Linked DNA regions of Homo sapiens: region 1 is linked to region 2. A link means that fine-mapping ties the variant in region 2 to the expression of a gene that starts in the linked region. Tissue or cell type: anterior cingulate cortex. Region 2 holds a variant in brackets; the other region holds the start of a gene. All regions are shown on one strand. Distances are between the middles of the regions.

What was found. PIP is the estimated chance that this variant, and not a neighbour inherited with it, causes the effect.
Region 1: MED24 starts here. The variant in region 2 is fine-mapped to the expression of MED24 in anterior cingulate cortex (GTEx, PIP above 0.99).

Annotation. Positions count from the first base shown.
Region 1 is chr17:40,051,184-40,059,351 of GRCh38, forward strand. MED24 (mediator complex subunit 24) reads right to left here and starts at 3,225. Exons shown (of 26, transcript NM_014815.4): 1 at 3,178-3,225; 2 at 2,286-2,452; 3 at 2,115-2,197. The coding sequence starts at 2,415. RefSeq lists an enhancer at 3,425-3,484.
Region 2 is chr17:40,016,805-40,024,986 of GRCh38, forward strand. It overlaps CSF3 (colony stimulating factor 3), which reads left to right. Exons shown (of 5, transcript NM_172219.3): 5 at 1-1,009. The coding sequence ends at 155. MED24 (mediator complex subunit 24) reads right to left here. Exons shown (of 26, transcript NM_014815.4): 20 at 6,327-6,591; 21 at 5,841-6,022; 22 at 5,590-5,680; 23 at 5,151-5,250; 24 at 3,469-3,549; 25 at 2,981-3,129; 26 at 2,300-2,841. The coding sequence ends at 2,725. Among named protein-coding and RNA genes, the nearest start is that of CSF3, 5.5 kb to the left of the region's middle. The variant A/G (reference allele first, on the strand shown) is at 5,092.

The DNA of each region.
Region 1 (8,168 bases), 34 kb after region 2:
GCCTGTAATCCCAGCTACTTGGGAGGCTGAGGCAGGACAATTGCTTGAACCCGAAAGGCAGAGGTTGCAGTGAGCCAAGATTGTGCCACTGTACTCCACCCTGGGTGACAGAGTAAGACTCCTTCTCAAAAAATAAAAATAAGGCTGGGCGGCCGGGCACAGTGGCTCACGCCTGTAAACCCAGCACTTTGGGAGGCCGAGGCGGAAGGATCACGAGGTCAAGAGATCAAGACCATACTGGCCAACATGGTGAAACCCCATCTCTACTAAAAATACAAAAATTAGCTGGGCATAGTGGCACACGCCTGTAGTCCCAGCTACTCAGGAGGCTGAGGCACGAGAATCACTTAAACCTGGGAGGCAGAGGTTGCAGTAAGCCAAGATCACGCCACTGCACTCTAGCCTAGTGACAGAGCGAAACTCTGCCTCAATCAATCAATCAATCAATAAAAAATAAGGCTGGGCGTGGTGGCTCATGCCTGCAATCCCAGCACTTTGGGAGGCCGAGGTGGGTGGATCACCTGAAGTCAGGAGTTCGAGACCAGCCTGGCCAAAATGGTAAAACCTCATCTCTACTAAAAATACAAAAATTAGCCGGGTGTGGTGGCAGACGCCTGTAATCCTAGCTACTCAGGAGGCTGAGGCAGGAGAATCACTTGAACCCAGGAGGCAGAGGTTGCAGTGAGCCGAGATCAAGCCATTGCACTGCAGCCTGGGCAACAGGAGCGAAATCCCATCTCAATAAATAAACAAACAAACAGGCTTTGTGTTAGATGATTTTTCCCAACTGTAAGCTAGTGTGTTCTGAGCACATTTACGGTAGGTAGATGGCCAGGCACGGTGGCTCACACCTGTAATCCTAGCACTTTGGGAGGCCAAGGCGGGCGGATCACAAGGTCAGGAGTTCAAGACCAGCCTGGCCAATATAGTGAAACCCTGTCTCTACTAAAAATACAAAAATTAGCCAGGCGTGATGGCAGGCACCTGTAGTCCCAGCTACTCGGGAGGCTGAGGTAGGAGAATCGCTTGAACCCGGGAAACGGAGGTTGCAGTGAGCCGAGGTCACGCCACTGCACTCCAGCCTGGGCGATAGAGCAAGACTCTGACTCAAAAAAAGGTAGGTAGATGACCTTTGGCAAGTTATGTGTATTAAGTACATTTTCAACTTATGAGTGGTATATCAGCACATCACCCCATTGTAAGTTGAGGAGCATCTGTACTCTATCCTAACCTTTATCATAAACCCATCTAGTGACTGCTTATTTACATGTCTATATTACCCACTAAATTTTCTGTGTACTGACATCGGGTTTTGTTCACAGCTATATTCCCCAGGGGCTAAGCACTGTCTGGCACATAAAAGCATTCATGAGTATTTGTTGATAGAATAGGTGAATGTAATCCTCTTTTTTTCTTTTGCTTGTTGTTGTTTTTAATAGACGGAGTGTTGTTCTGTTGCCCAGGCTGGAGTGCAGTGGCACAATCAGTGCTCACTGTAGCCTCAAACTCCTGGGCTCAAGCAAGCCTCCTACCTCCACCTTCTGAGTAGGTGGGGCCACAGGCCTGTGCTACCTGCTACCACTCCCAGCAGAATAAGTGAATGTAATATTCATCACAACAAATGAAGTATTATTTTTATGAGAACACTGAAACTCACTGAAATGATCTGTTCAAACAGATCAATCTAGAATCTTACTCTTTCATCTAGAAAGAGTAAGCTGACAATTGTACAACTGCACCCCAAATTGTGTTTGTTTGTTTCTTTCCTGAGACAGGGTCTCACTCTGTTGCTCTGGCTGGAGGGCAGTGGCAGGATCATGGCTCATTGCAGTCTCGACCTCCCAGGGCTCAGGTGATCCTCCCACCTCAGCCTTCCAAGTAGCTGGGACTACAGGGGCACCACCACGCAGGGGTAACTCTTTGTATTTTTGGGTAGAGACTGGGTTTTGCCATGTTACGCAGGCTGGTCTTGAACTCCTGGGCTCAAGCAATCCGCCTGCCTCAGCCTCCCACAATGCTGGGATTACAGCCATGAACCACCGGGGCCCAAATGCACTCCAAGTTTTTTACCCCCAGAACTCTCACTTCTTGGTGGGGGTTTGCGGGAAGCTTACCTGGGAACTAATGGCATACTTCAGGTAGGACAAGATGAGAGGATTGGGGGATGGTCCAATCATGGCCTGCTCTAGTAACGCATCTGCAAGAGGAATAGCAAAACACAACTGAGTGATTACAACTTCTCTGGGTTTATCCCTCCCATCTTTCTTTCCCAGTTCACTTGAGACCTGCCAGGTTGAGAATATCCCAGGTGGCTCCTTTAGGAAAGAATTTCTTCATGTTGATTGCCCATTGGTAGTCACTCCAGCGCTCCTTCCAGGCTTGCAAAATGGCTTGCTTCAGGTTGACCACCTTCATTATTTCACTCTGAGCAGGTGGCAGCGGTGGCGGCCAGCTTTGAGGTGAAAGAAATGGAGCTAAAGAAAAGGACATGAGGTTCTAAGGAGAACCGGGGAAGGCAGAATTAAATAGAAAGGAGAAGATGCGGGAAGATTTAAGCGAGACAGAGGAATTTGAAAGAAAAAGAGCTAAAGGGATAAAGTAAGATCCTGTCAGACTCTCTCCTCCTGAACCGCCCTTCCTTAAACTGGGGCACTAAGAAAGTATCGGCCGAGCGCAGTGGCTCGCACCTGTAATCCCAGCACTTCGGGAGGCAGAGGCGGGCGAATCACCGGAGGTCAGGAGTTCGAGACTAGCCTGACCAACATGGAGAAACCTCGTCTCCACTAAAAATACAAAATTAGCCGGGCTTGGTGGTGCATGCCTGTAATCCCAGCTACTCGGGAGGCTGAGGCAGTAGAATCGCTTGAACCCGGGAGGCGGAGGTTGTTGGGGTGAGCCGAGATCGCACCATTGCACTCCAGCCTGGGCAACAAGAGCAAAACTCCGTCTCTCAAATAAATGAATAAAGAAGTATCAAAGGGACTAATAGATTAAACAGGGCATCAAGGAGTTAAGGCAGTCCTGGTTGCCTAATTACGCCCTTAGCTCTAAAAGCGTCCCTTGGCCACCACCATTCCAAGTCCAGATTTGCTCCCTCATTTCCTCCACCTTCTCCAGCCCTGTAACTATACCTCCCAATTTCCTTTTCATCCACCACCTCCCCAAATTTAAGCCTACCGCACAATCCAGTTCTAGGTGGTAGGCATCGCCATTTTGGCACTTGTCAAGAAGCTCACTTTCTATTGGCTGGGAGTAACAAACGCCAACCAATAGAAATGCAGCAAGGAACGCCCCGCTGTCTTCTGGGAATGGTAGTTCCTTGGACTGAAACCGTATTTGTCTGCGCCGGCGAGGAAACTAAGGGACTCGTCTAGTCGGCCCGCATTGTTCTTCTCCTTTAAGGGAGGACATCCAGGAGCTGAGGCACTACAGAGACTCAGGGACTCGAGGGAGCTCGAAAGGCCGCTCACAACCCGGCGTCGCCCACGACGTCACTGTCGACCGGGCTTCTCCATCATATTCCGACACCCTTTCATTCGTTAGCCCCTAGTTAGTAGGTGCGGCAAGGGTGTGGCGTGGGGGCAAGGGTGTGGCGTTCAGCAATAAGGTCTTTCTCCTTTCCTGGGCTCTTTCTGTTCTCCTAAGCCCCTGGAGCTACCAGAGCTATTCTCATTTCCACAACTATATTCTAAAAGCGACACCGAGGTGCCTTAGTTGCACACATATCACCGTCCCCGAATCTTACAGTCCTATCAGAATCTCCAGGCCCTCCATACAGCTTGGATACAAGGGAAAGTAAAGAGGAAACTAAGGTGAAGGTGATCAAAATCAAAGGAATTCTGAGAAACTGTCACAACTAAGAGGGCTAAGGAGACCTGATGACTAAATGTAATGTGGTTTTCTGAATGCGATCATGGAAGAGAAAAAGAATACTGGGTAAAAACTAAGGAAATCTAAATAAAGGGTGGACTTTAATTAATAATAATGTATCAATATTAGTTCATTAGTTGTTACAAATGCATAATACTAATGCTAAGATGTTAATAAAAAGAGAAATTGGGTGCAGAATATGTGGGGACCCTCTATTACCTTCCATTTTTTTCCTGTAAATTAAAAACTTGTTTTTTTAAGTTTCTTGTTGTTGTTGTTGTTGTTGTTGTTTAAATCTTGCTTATCCCAAAGATCCATATATAAATTATGCCCAGGGCTTTGGCCATAGCCTTTCCTTCCCCCAGTGAGAAACCCGAAAGCAAATGTTACCCACCTCTGGAGGCTCCAATGTCTGAGCCTTCTTATGCATAGCCCTCATCCCTCCCCATGCTATGGACTGGTCATCCCTAACATTTACAACCAGGAATAAGAGTAAATTACTCGGGAGGCTGAGAAAGGAGGATCACTTGAGCTCGGGAGTTCAAATCCAGCCTGGGCAACATAATGAGACTCTCAGCTCTACCAAAATACATAAATAAATAAACATGGAGGCCTTTAGCCAGGGCCCAATATCCTAGTTCACAAGTTCAAGCTCAATCTGTATTCCTCAACAAAGATTCTTTTTTTTTTTTTTTTTGAGATGGAGGCTTGCTCTGTTGCCCAGGCTGGAGTGCAATGGCGCAGTCTCAGCTCACTGCAACCTCTGCCTCCCAGGTTTAAGCAATTCTCCTGCCTCAGCCTCCCAAGTAGCTGGGATTACAGGCGTGTGCCACCACATCCGACTAATTTTTGTATTTTTAGTAGAGACAGGGTTTCGCCATGTCGGCCAGGGTGGTCTCAAAATCCTGACCTCAGCCACCCACCTTGGCCTCCCAGAGTGCTAGGACTGTAGGCATGAGCCACCGTGCCTAGCCTCCAACAACCATTCTTTGCTCACCCTTTGAGTGGCAAAATCAGTCCTCGGGAGGATAAATCTGGGAGAGCAGCCCACTTAAGGCTCTGGAAGCAAAACTGTGGCCATTTGGGCAGAGAATTACAGCGCCCTGGGTGTCTGGAGAATGGTCTAAACAGGGAGTCAAGAACTTCTGTTCCAAAGGGGAGAGTGTGGCTGAAGGAGGGTCAGATCATGTCCTCCTGCGGTTGGTACTGCCTATGGCCTTTCTTCCTCCCCATACATTCAATCCACACCCCTCTCTTAGGCTCCCTTTGTGCCTGCCCAAGTGACACCATTGGGGAATAGTGTGTATACAAAACAGCTGCCAAATATATGTTGCCAAAGCTTCTAAAGCAGGAAGGAGGGAAATACGGATTCCTCACCTCACCTTCCAGATGACCCCCGGCCACTCCACTCATACTTGAGACTGCCACAAACCCTGCTTCTCCTCAGTCTCTCACATATCTGACTTCCCCTGTTCTCCCAGGCCCCTCACTCTACCTTTGCCTGCTCCCCTGCTGTCATTCTGTGCCTGTAGCCACAGCCTAAGGCCCTCCACCTGGAGCCATTCCTGGATCATCCTGGAGCCCCTGTCGCATACCTCAGAGCCCAAACTGCCTCTCTTGGAGAGAAGCTGTCAACTGTGTGTCCGGTCCACACAGGACTGGGGACTATTTGGGCCCTGAGGATGGTGATATTTTGAGCTCAAACCATTCCCTCTGGCAGGGAGCCTGGCAGATTTCTAGGGAGGTGCCTCCTCCCCACTTCGCAGTGACAGGGAGGCGGCTTTTGTAGTCAGGCCATCTGCCTTCTCTGTCTCCCCACCTCCCACCAGCAGCCCTTTCTCTAGGCTTGGCAAGGTTTCCCCAAAGGCTGGACTCCTATGTACAAAGGCTCCCTTAGCTCTGGGCAAGGACCATTTTTAGTTTATCCACTTTGACCTCCCTGCCTCTCTAGTCTGTAAACATCAGAGGCAGCCTTTCCTATATCACCTCTTCCTTCCACACCACAATATCTTCCTAGGGACCCCCTTGGGCTCTCTGGCTCACTGCAAGCACAGGACCGGGACCCCATGATAATCCTCCAAAGGGTGAAGAGAGATGCTAACATTTCCTTTGGGTGTACAAAAAAACAGCCCCCCAACCGGGCGCGGTGGCTCACACCTCTAATCCCTGCACTTTGGGAAGCCAAGGCAGGCAGATCACCTGGGGTTAGGAGTTCGAGACCAGCCTGACCAACATGGAGAAACCCCATCTCTACTAAAAAACAAAATTAGCCGGGCATGGTGGCGCATGCCTGTAATCCCAGCTGCTCGGGAGATGGAGGTAGGAGAATTGCTTGAACCCAGGAGGCGAAGGTTGCGGTAAGCTGAGATTGCACCATTGCACTCCAGCCTGGGCAACAAGAGCGAAACTTCGTCTCAAAAAAAAAAAAAAAAGCCCTCCAGCCCATCTCAAAGCCCCGTCCTACTTACCCCACTTTCTTTTGCTGTTCATTTCCTCTCAACAGGGACAGGGGCCGAACTCCCATCTCTGCCCTCCTAGTCCTGAGCCCCAACCTCTTTCTTCATCTTGTTGCCTACCTTGGCTAGAGAGAGAAGAGGGGAAGGTGGAAGTCAACCAGTCAGAGTGATATGGCAACCCTGGAGAAGTGTCAGAAAAGCAGCTAGGCCAGAGTGGGGTAAGAGGTGGCAAGGAACAGGGTTCTGGGTACCCAAAGGGAAGGGAACATTCCTTATCTATCTAGGCTAGAAAACAGTATAAAGAAAAGTGGCAAGAGTCCAGACCCAAAAACCCAGAAACACTGAAATCGTTGGTAAAGCATACAAGGCACAGAGGGTGTCAGCTTCCCTTCTCTCCATAGGGAAACTGAGTCATTCCTTTTCCCTAAGTGGAACATTTTCCTCTGGAAGCTTGCCTGGGTCCCCCCACTATGGGCAGCAGGTGGATGGGAAAAGAAAGACAGTCACTCCCAAACACTTATACACAGCTGGCTCCAAACCAGTCTCCTCCTCATACCAGTCACCAAATCAAAATCCCTGCTTTCTGTCTATCTGGGGGAGGGAATGATGGGAAAGAGGTCTGCAAGGTGGCTGCACCTCAGGGACTCAGGGACTACCCCTGGATCCCCCACAGTTGCCTGTCTCTGTCTTCCCACTGCCCCAGGAGAGTGAAAGGCAGAATTTGAATCAACTCTTGGAATAGCTTCCCCTCTAACACCCTGGAGGATGCCTTCCCTCTCCATACTCCCAGCACAAAGAGAAGTGCTGTGATCCTGAGGCCGACAGTGGCTGGGAAGGGAGGGCAGCCTGCCATTTCCTTTGTATGGCCCCTCCCTCCAGGCCCTGAGAGCTGCTCTGCTTTATACTTTTGGCTTCCATATCATACTACCCTATCCCCTCCTTTAACTGGAGTGGGAGAACTGCGGAAAGGTAAGCCCCAAACTCTGATGGTAAAGGAGACTTCCCTGCTCCCCCTCCTCTCCTCTCTCCTGCTGGCAAAGATAGGATGAGAAGACTCTAAGGGAAAGTGAAACCAGAAGCTGGGAGCATTTGGGGAATCTAATACTTGGCACATATTAAATGCTTAAAAAAAAAAAGTGTCAGGCTGGGTGCGGTGGCTCACGCCTGTAATTCCAGCACTTTGGGAGGCCGAGGCAGGCGGATCATGAGGTCAGGAGATCGAGACCATCCTGGTTAACACAGTGAAAGCCCGTCTCTACTAAAAATACAAAAATTAGCCAGGCATTGTGGTGGGTGCCTGTAGTCCCCGCTACTCGGGAGGCTTAGGCAGGAGAATGGTGTTAACCCGGGAGGCAAGCTTTCAGTGAGCCAAGATCACACCACTGCACTCCAGCCTGGGTGACAGAGCAAGACTCCATCAGGAAAAAACAAACAAACAAAAAAAAAAAACAGTGTCAGATTAATGAATAAAATTAGGAGAAACCCTGAAAGACAGCCTGGAAAAGGTGTCAGCTTCCTTTTCCATTTCTCACCTCAGCTACCAAAAGCAAGACTCAGCCAGGCCTGGTCCCTTCCCTGGCTCCCTCTTTTGTGACCCATAGCAATAGCGCCTGATGGGACAAAGGGGAGAATTAAGTGGCCACTTTCTCTTACCAGGTAATTGCTAATTTGCCAGTCTCTCATCTCCTGCATCAGCCTCCCAAGTAGCCAGAACTGAAGGTCTGCACCACAACACCCAGATAATTTGTGGGTTTTTGTTTTTGGTTTTTTTTTTTTTTGAGATGGAGGTCTCACTATGTTGCCCAGGATGGTCTTGAACTCATGACCTGAAGAGATCCTCCC
Region 2 (8,182 bases):
TGGGAATGGCCCCTGCCCTGCAGCCCACCCAGGGTGCCATGCCGGCCTTCGCCTCTGCTTTCCAGCGCCGGGCAGGAGGGGTCCTGGTTGCCTCCCATCTGCAGAGCTTCCTGGAGGTGTCGTACCGCGTTCTACGCCACCTTGCCCAGCCCTGAGCCAAGCCCTCCCCATCCCATGTATTTATCTCTATTTAATATTTATGTCTATTTAAGCCTCATATTTAAAGACAGGGAAGAGCAGAACGGAGCCCCAGGCCTCTGTGTCCTTCCCTGCATTTCTGAGTTTCATTCTCCTGCCTGTAGCAGTGAGAAAAAGCTCCTGTCCTCCCATCCCCTGGACTGGGAGGTAGATAGGTAAATACCAAGTATTTATTACTATGACTGCTCCCCAGCCCTGGCTCTGCAATGGGCACTGGGATGAGCCGCTGTGAGCCCCTGGTCCTGAGGGTCCCCACCTGGGACCCTTGAGAGTATCAGGTCTCCCACGTGGGAGACAAGAAATCCCTGTTTAATATTTAAACAGCAGTGTTCCCCATCTGGGTCCTTGCACCCCTCACTCTGGCCTCAGCCGACTGCACAGCGGCCCCTGCATCCCCTTGGCTGTGAGGCCCCTGGACAAGCAGAGGTGGCCAGAGCTGGGAGGCATGGCCCTGGGGTCCCACGAATTTGCTGGGGAATCTCGTTTTTCTTCTTAAGACTTTTGGGACATGGTTTGACTCCCGAACATCACCGACGCGTCTCCTGTTTTTCTGGGTGGCCTCGGGACACCTGCCCTGCCCCCACGAGGGTCAGGACTGTGACTCTTTTTAGGGCCAGGCAGGTGCCTGGACATTTGCCTTGCTGGACGGGGACTGGGGATGTGGGAGGGAGCAGACAGGAGGAATCATGTCAGGCCTGTGTGTGAAAGGAAGCTCCACTGTCACCCTCCACCTCTTCACCCCCCACTCACCAGTGTCCCCTCCACTGTCACATTGTAACTGAACTTCAGGATAATAAAGTGTTTGCCTCCAGTCACGTCCTTCCTCCTTCTTGAGTCCAGCTGGTGCCTGGCCAGGGGCTGGGGAGGTGGCTGAAGGGTGGGAGAGGCCAGAGGGAGGTCGGGGAGGAGGTCTGGGGAGGAGGTCCAGGGAGGAGGAGGAAAGTTCTCAAGTTCGTCTGACATTCATTCCGTTAGCACATATTTATCTGAGCACCTACTCTGTGCAGACGCTGGGCTAAGTGCTGGGGACACAGCAGGGAACAAGGCAGACATGGAATCTGCACTCGAGCAGCCAAAGCCTGGCAGGGAAGACAGAGGCACAGGGACCATGGGAACCCGGAAAGGAGAGGGCATGGGGTCTGGGTGGGCTTAACAGGCCAGACACAGCCAGACAAGATGAAGCCAGGGAGTGCTGAGCATCTGCACCAGGCTTGTCATTTACCATCTTCCATAAACTTGAGCCCATCCATCAAGTTGCCCACAAAGTGGAAGCCAAGTTCAAGGTGACCACTGGGGTCAGAGCTTCTCTCCTCAGACTCGGTCTCTGCACTCGCCCCAGCTGGTCACTTCCTGCTTGTGGCAGCCTTGGGCTGAAGAGCGCTAAGCTCACAGCCCAGGAGGGTGGGGAGCTGTGGCAAGCAGGGGGGGCAGCGACCGCACCACAGGTGTGAGGCCTGCCTGCAGCCAAAGACTCCTGTGTGGCTTTGGGGTACCCCCACCAGTCCCCAGTCCACTATCTGCCCAAACCTTCTCCTCCTCAGCTCCTCAGTCCCTCCCACCTCCCCTGCCCGTGGCTCCTCGGAAAGCAGGGTCAGAAGTTCCCACTGCCAGCTCGGAGTCATCCATCTAGGGGCTCAGAGATGTGTGAGGCAGGCAAGGAAGGGTTAAAGAAAGGTCCGGCCCCTCATCCCCCCGCCTCCCATCCCCCAGTCCTTTTTTGGAGGCAACAGATCAAATCCCAGGCTAGTCAGAGTGTGGGTGGTGTTGGACCAGGTTCGGGAGACAGCAGAGCAGGCCACCCTGCCCCAGCACTGTGGGGCCCTGAGCCAAAGCCTCTCCCCTTTCAGGGTACAGCTGGCTTTGGGGGAGGGGGCAGCAGGCCAGCCAACTTGGCTCCAAGGAAGGGAAGCTGCTTTCCCCTGGCCCTTCCCCAGCTGAGCAAGCCCACATAGGACCCTGAGCCCTGCCGCCTCTGCTCCTCTTCCTCCTCCTCCTCACCACAGGAGTGAGCCGTTCCCTGGCCACAGCACAGGAGTCCAGGGAGAGGACACTATGCCCTGCCCCGGGTGGCACCAATACCAACAGCACACACAGTCACAAAGGGAGCCACGAGGAGCTTTATTTATACATGAACGAAGGTAGATTTCCCTCACATATTACAAAATACACACAAACACACACACACACACACACACACACACATACACACTTTGCATCTAGAAAGTTCCTCAGAGGTAAGACTACTCCTGGGCTGGGGCGGGCGCACACAGGGGTGACCACTGGGCTTGTGGTCCAGGCTGCTCACTCTCCTCAGGTGCCAGCAGATGGAGAGGAAATTTTGAAAGAAGAAACCGGGAGACATCCTGGAGGTCAGGAGTCAGGAGCGGGGAACTGGAAGCCGCTAGAGGCTCTTGCACCATGTGGAGCGGATGTGAGGCACGATGCCTCATCTTTCCTCACTGCTTCCCTTGGAGGCGCCTGGGGCTGCGCCAGTCCCCAGCCCCCACTGCGGCCATGCCAAGCCCCTCAGAGTGCAGCAATGGCTTTAGCAGCCACCTGGCGGCCCAGGGGCAGGCTGAGGTCCGTGATGGCCAGAACCACCTTGGGGCTGGACATGGCTGACACCTTCACCAGTTCCGACACCTGCCACGGACAGACAGATGCTGCTTGCGGGACGGCTGGTGGTGGGTGTGCTGTCCCAGGGGGAAGGAGGCCCCTCCCTGCTCTAAGGGCTGCCCCGAGGCCCCAGCACCAGCAGGAGAGCCGGGAAGGTGGTACTCACGGTGGTGAAGGGCATGAACTGCAGGACGCTGCCACGGCCACCCTGCTCCAGGCAGTCCACACACTCCTCCATGAACCACTGCACGAACTGGGTGTGGGGGCCAGCGGTGCGAGACCCCAGGATGGAGGAGATGAGCAGGAACAGGTTGGCTGTAGAGAGTGGGGGGAGAGTGACAGGAGGGAGTTCCATGAGAGTGGGTGAGGTCACACTCTGGGAGAAGGTGGGACTGAAAAGGGAAAAGAAACACATGCTGAGCATGTCCCCAAAATGGGGTGTCAGAGAGAGAAAATATAAAAGGCAATTGGGGAGGGGAGGAGGGGGAACTAGACAGGAGCCTGGGGGCCAGGACAGCCAACAATGAGGGGCATGGAGAGGGAAGGGAGGGGCACCGCAAGGCCCCTTCCAGCTGACAAGGTCTCCCAGCCTCCATGAGAAGAGAGACTCGTCCAGCTTAGCCCCAGGTTCGGCAGCAGGGGTGGGGAACTCACCCAGGACTCGGTTCAGAGGGTCCCGCATGTTGACCGTGTGGAGCTGAGAGGCTGAGAGGGAGCTGCTCATGGATCGGTCTGCTGTGGGACGGAGCAGATGGAGCGCTGGGAAACAGCCTGCCGAGTGCAAAAGTGGTGCTCCCCGGGGATGCCCCAACCCGACCTTCACCCATCGGAGGTAACTGGTACATGGAGAGCCCAGAGAAGACCCTGAGATCAAGAGCACAAAGGGAGGCCAGGTACAGTGGCTCACACCTGTAATCCCAGCATTTTGGGAGGCCGAGGCAGGAGGATCGCTTGAGTCCAGGAGTTTGAGACCAGCCTTGGCAACTAGCGAGACCTCATCTCTACAAAAAATACAAAAATTAGCTGGGTGTGGTGCCAACGCCTGTAGTCCCAGCTCCTCGGGAGGCTGAGGCAGACTGCTTGAGCCTAGGAGAACAAGGCTGCAGTGAGCCGAGATGGTGCCACTGCACTCCAGCCTGAGCAACAGAGCAAAACCGTGTCTCAGAAAAACAGGCTGGGCGTGGTGGCTCACGCCTGTAATCCCAGCACTTTGGGAGGCCAAGGCGGGTGGATCATCTGAGTTCAGGAGTTCGAGACCAGCCTGACCAATATGGTGAAACCCCGTCTCTACTAAAAATACAAAAATTAGCCAGGCGTTGTGGCAGGCGCCTGTAGTCCCAGAGACTCAGGAGGCTGAGACAGGAAAATTGCTTAAACCCAGGAGGCGGAGGTTGCAGTAAGCTGAGATCGTGCGACTGCACTCCAGCCTGGGCAACAGAGGGAGACTCCAACTCAAACAAACAAACAAACAAACAAACAAAAAACAAAACAAAAAAAGGGCACAGAGGGACCTCAGATACAGAGATCCCAATGGAATGAGAGAGAAAAACTAACATGTGGTGAGCACACAGGGCCAGGGGCCGATCTTGGTACTTCCTAAGCTGCTTACTCCTCACAACACCCCATTTACAGATGAGGAGACCCAGACGGGGGCTGGCTCAGTCGCTAGCTAAAGGTCACAGCACTTGTAGCTGGCAAACCTAGCATCTTTCTTCTGATCAAGTGTATAGTTGGTCCCCTAGTTCCTAAAAGGCTTCAGAGAAAAGTTCAGGCTCAGGAGAAATCTCTGGAAACAGGAAAAATGCCACAGAAGGAACCCTTGGCAGTAAGCCTGGCAGGGAGGAGGGGACAGTGAAAAGGATGACCTCCAGGGAAGTGGTTGGTGGGGGGTGTGCTCTTTAGGCAGGAAGGTGGGGAGTAGCCCCATGCCCCAGCCCGGGCCTCTCCGGGCATGTTTTGGGGGAAGGAAGGAAGGAAGGTCAGAGCTGGTGAGTCAATGGCACAGGCTGTGCCTGAGGCAGTGAACTCACTCACTTGGGTAGCTTGTCATCCCCTCAACCCTGGGGTAAGGGAGGGGCAGGAGGGCTGTGGGGGAACAACTGTGGGCTGGGCTGGACCTGGGCAGAGGAGCTTCAACCCTCAGGGAGTGAGAACAGCAACCTCTTCTCCAGGGGCAGGACACAGAGCACCCCCTTGGGGGCTAGAACAGCAGGTCCCTGCCACACCCTCTCTGACCAGCTGCAAAGATGCCTGCAGCTGGGGCAGCGGCAGAGTGGC[A/G]GCATCGGGGAGTGAATTCCCAGGAAAAGGAGCGGCGCGCGGCCAGCCCACACACTCACTGGGGCTCGAAAGGATGTTGGCATCGTCCTCATTAGAGCTCAGCAGTCGCATCAACTTCGAAGGCTGCACATCGTCCAGGGGGAAGAGGCTGATATAATCCTAGAGGGAGTGAAAGTCACTGTTATACACCCCTAAACCCCCCAGTTTCCAGCTGTCAGGGAAAAGAGCTTGAGCTCCGATTTGAGCGAGGTCAGCATGGCTAGCAGGGCCTCAGCCCCTCTCTGCTCAACCCCTCCCACAATCTGACAGGCCCCTTGTGCCCATGGGCAAGCTGGGGCCACACAAATCACCCATGCAGATTCCTGACCAATCATGCCCAGGCACAGCTGCCCCAAGGGCAGGGGCCACAACTGCTTCCCTTTGCCTGGGGAATCCTTAGGAAATGCTGTAACAAACCGGTGAACAAGTGAAGCCGGCGAGGGCAGCTGGGGGGCCTACCTCAATGTCTTCGCGGTGTCTCTTCTTCTGGCGGGTGGACGCCTGTCCCTTGTGGGAGGAGTAGGAACTGAGGGCACACCACACGGCCAGCCTGGCAAAGGGTTCCAGAAAAAGGGGGACAGTGAGAGGTGCCCCAGGAGCTTTCTGTGTCTGACTGGGCTCCCCAAAGCCCAGTCTCCCAGGGTGGCACCAGGCGAGGGGTGCTTGACCCTGGGTGGCCGGAGCAGGGCAAGCTCTGAAGAGAATCTTACTTGGCAAGAGCAGTGCCCGGGGGGTCCATGAGGCTGTGCCACTTGGAGGAGTCAGTGAGCAGGCCAGGTAGGATGTGGCCCAGCAGGACCAGGGTCACTTGCTGCATGTCCAGGCAGAAGATGGAGTAGAGCAGCTCCACTGCCCGCAGCGTGTGCTCCTTCCGCGTCTCCTTCAGCAGCTCCTAGTGCGCAGGAAAGGGGGCAGTTCAGGAGCCAGGGGCCCGGGATCTGGGGCTCCTACACCCTGCCACCCCAGCATGGCTGTCCAGTAAGGCCCGCAGAGGGGGCCCCAGATGTTGCTCCGCCCCTCAGGCTGAATCCCAGTCTCTGGCCAGAGCTCCCCAAGGAGGCAACTCTGAGGCGAGGCATTCCGGGGAGGCCACCTGGCTCACGGCAGCCTCTCAGGGAAGCCTGGCAGACCAGGCCAGGTGTGGGGAGCCAGGGGACAGGACCCATGTCGGCCCACAGCCACTCCAGCCCAAGTACCTTAATCAGGTTGTTGCAGAACCAGTAGACGCCGCCCATGTGCAGCAGGGTGTCAAAGATGTGGATGGAGCGGCTGTCCACCCAGCCCTTCTCCAGCACCTTGGCAAAAATGTCCGTCAGCACCTCTTTGATGGGCCGCTTGGGGGGCAGCAGGTTCCAGTAGGGCATTGTGTCCACCCCGGTGGAGGGAAACTTGATCTGCGTGGCTGTCTGCTGCAGCACGTCGGCACACATGCGCTCCAGGATCGAGTTCATGATCACCACCCTGGGGGAGGGCCGAGAGAACCTGAGGCTCAGGTGCCACTGTAGGGTGGGGAGGGAGAGGAGGGAACACCCATGCCAGACTTTCCCTTGGACTTAGGTTACGGAAATCTCCCTGAGGCATTAACCCAGTTTTGCGCTGGGGGACGGTATACCCCGGGGTGACCTGGCCCCTGCTCTGCTCCTGGCAGGTCTCTCACCTGCAGGACACAAAGCCTATAAATAGGGACTGGGGAGGGACTTTCCTCCCCCTGGCCATTCCAGCCAGATATTCACATTTTCTTTTATTCTCCAACTTCCCCCATCCCCCAGGCCTGGGCCCTGCCAACCTGCCACATAAATAAACACAATCACTTCCCCCTAGGCTGAGTGCTTGGGGGTCCCCGCCCAGCCCTGGCCTCCTCCCAAAGTAAACTGTTCCTTCCAGGAGAGGCCCAAGGGCTGCCCCACAGGACTCTTCCCGGCCCCTGGTAGCTGGGCAGATAGAAGTGTATATCCAGGAATTTTCTCATGGAAAGAGGCTTCGGAAGTGAATACAGACCCGGGCCGAGTGCTGACTGTTCCTGGAATGCAGGGTGGCTCTGGGAAAGTTGCTATGACCTTTAGAGCCACTTTTCCCACCTGCACAATGGAGCCACAGACTTCTCACTACCCCTTACCCAGATAGGATTTAGGGTGCTTAGAATGGGTTACACCAGAGCAAAAGCTCCCTACTTGGTAGGGCGGGGGGGAAGGTGGTGGAGAAATGAGAGAAGAAAGGAAAAAAGGAGGAGGCAAGGGGAAAACGAGATGTGCTTTTCCAGACCGTCCAAACCTCATTCAGCTCAATGCTTCCCCTTCTCCCTATTAAGACATCCTCAGGCCCGGTGCGGTGGCTCATGCCTATAATCCCAGCACTTCAGGAGGCTGAGGCGGGAAGATCACCTGAAATCAGGAGTTCGAGACCAGCCTGGCCAACATGGTGAAACCCCATCTCTACCAAAAATACAAAAATTAGCCGGGTGTGGTGGCACATGCCTGTAATCCCGGCTACTCGGGAGGCTGAGGCAGGAGAATCTCTTGAACCCAGGAGGCGGAGATTGCAGTGAGCCTAGATAGTGCCACAGCACTCCAGCCTGGGTGACAGAGCGAAACGCCGTCTCAAAAATAAGTACATAAATAAATAAATAAAGACATCCTCAACGTTGCCATAAAGACATGGCAACACCCAAAACGTATTAGCTGGTAAACACCCATGTTCACAGCAGCACTATTCACTATAGCCCAAAGGTGGAAGCAACTGAAGTGTCCACTGACAGAGGAGGGATCAAGATGTGGTATAGCCACACAATAGAGGTTTCTTTTGTTTTTGTTTTGTTTTTTGAGACAGAGTCTCACTCTTTCACCCAGGCTGGAGTGCAGTGGCGTGATCTCGGCTCACTGCAACCTCCGCTTCCTGGGTTCAAGCAATTCTCCTGTCTCAGCCTCCCAAGTAGCTGGGATTGCAGGCGCCTGCCACCACTCCCTGCTCATTTTTATATTTTTAGTAAGGCCAAGGTTTCACCATGTTGGTCAGGCTGGCCTTAAACTCCTGACCTCAAGTGAGCCACTCACCT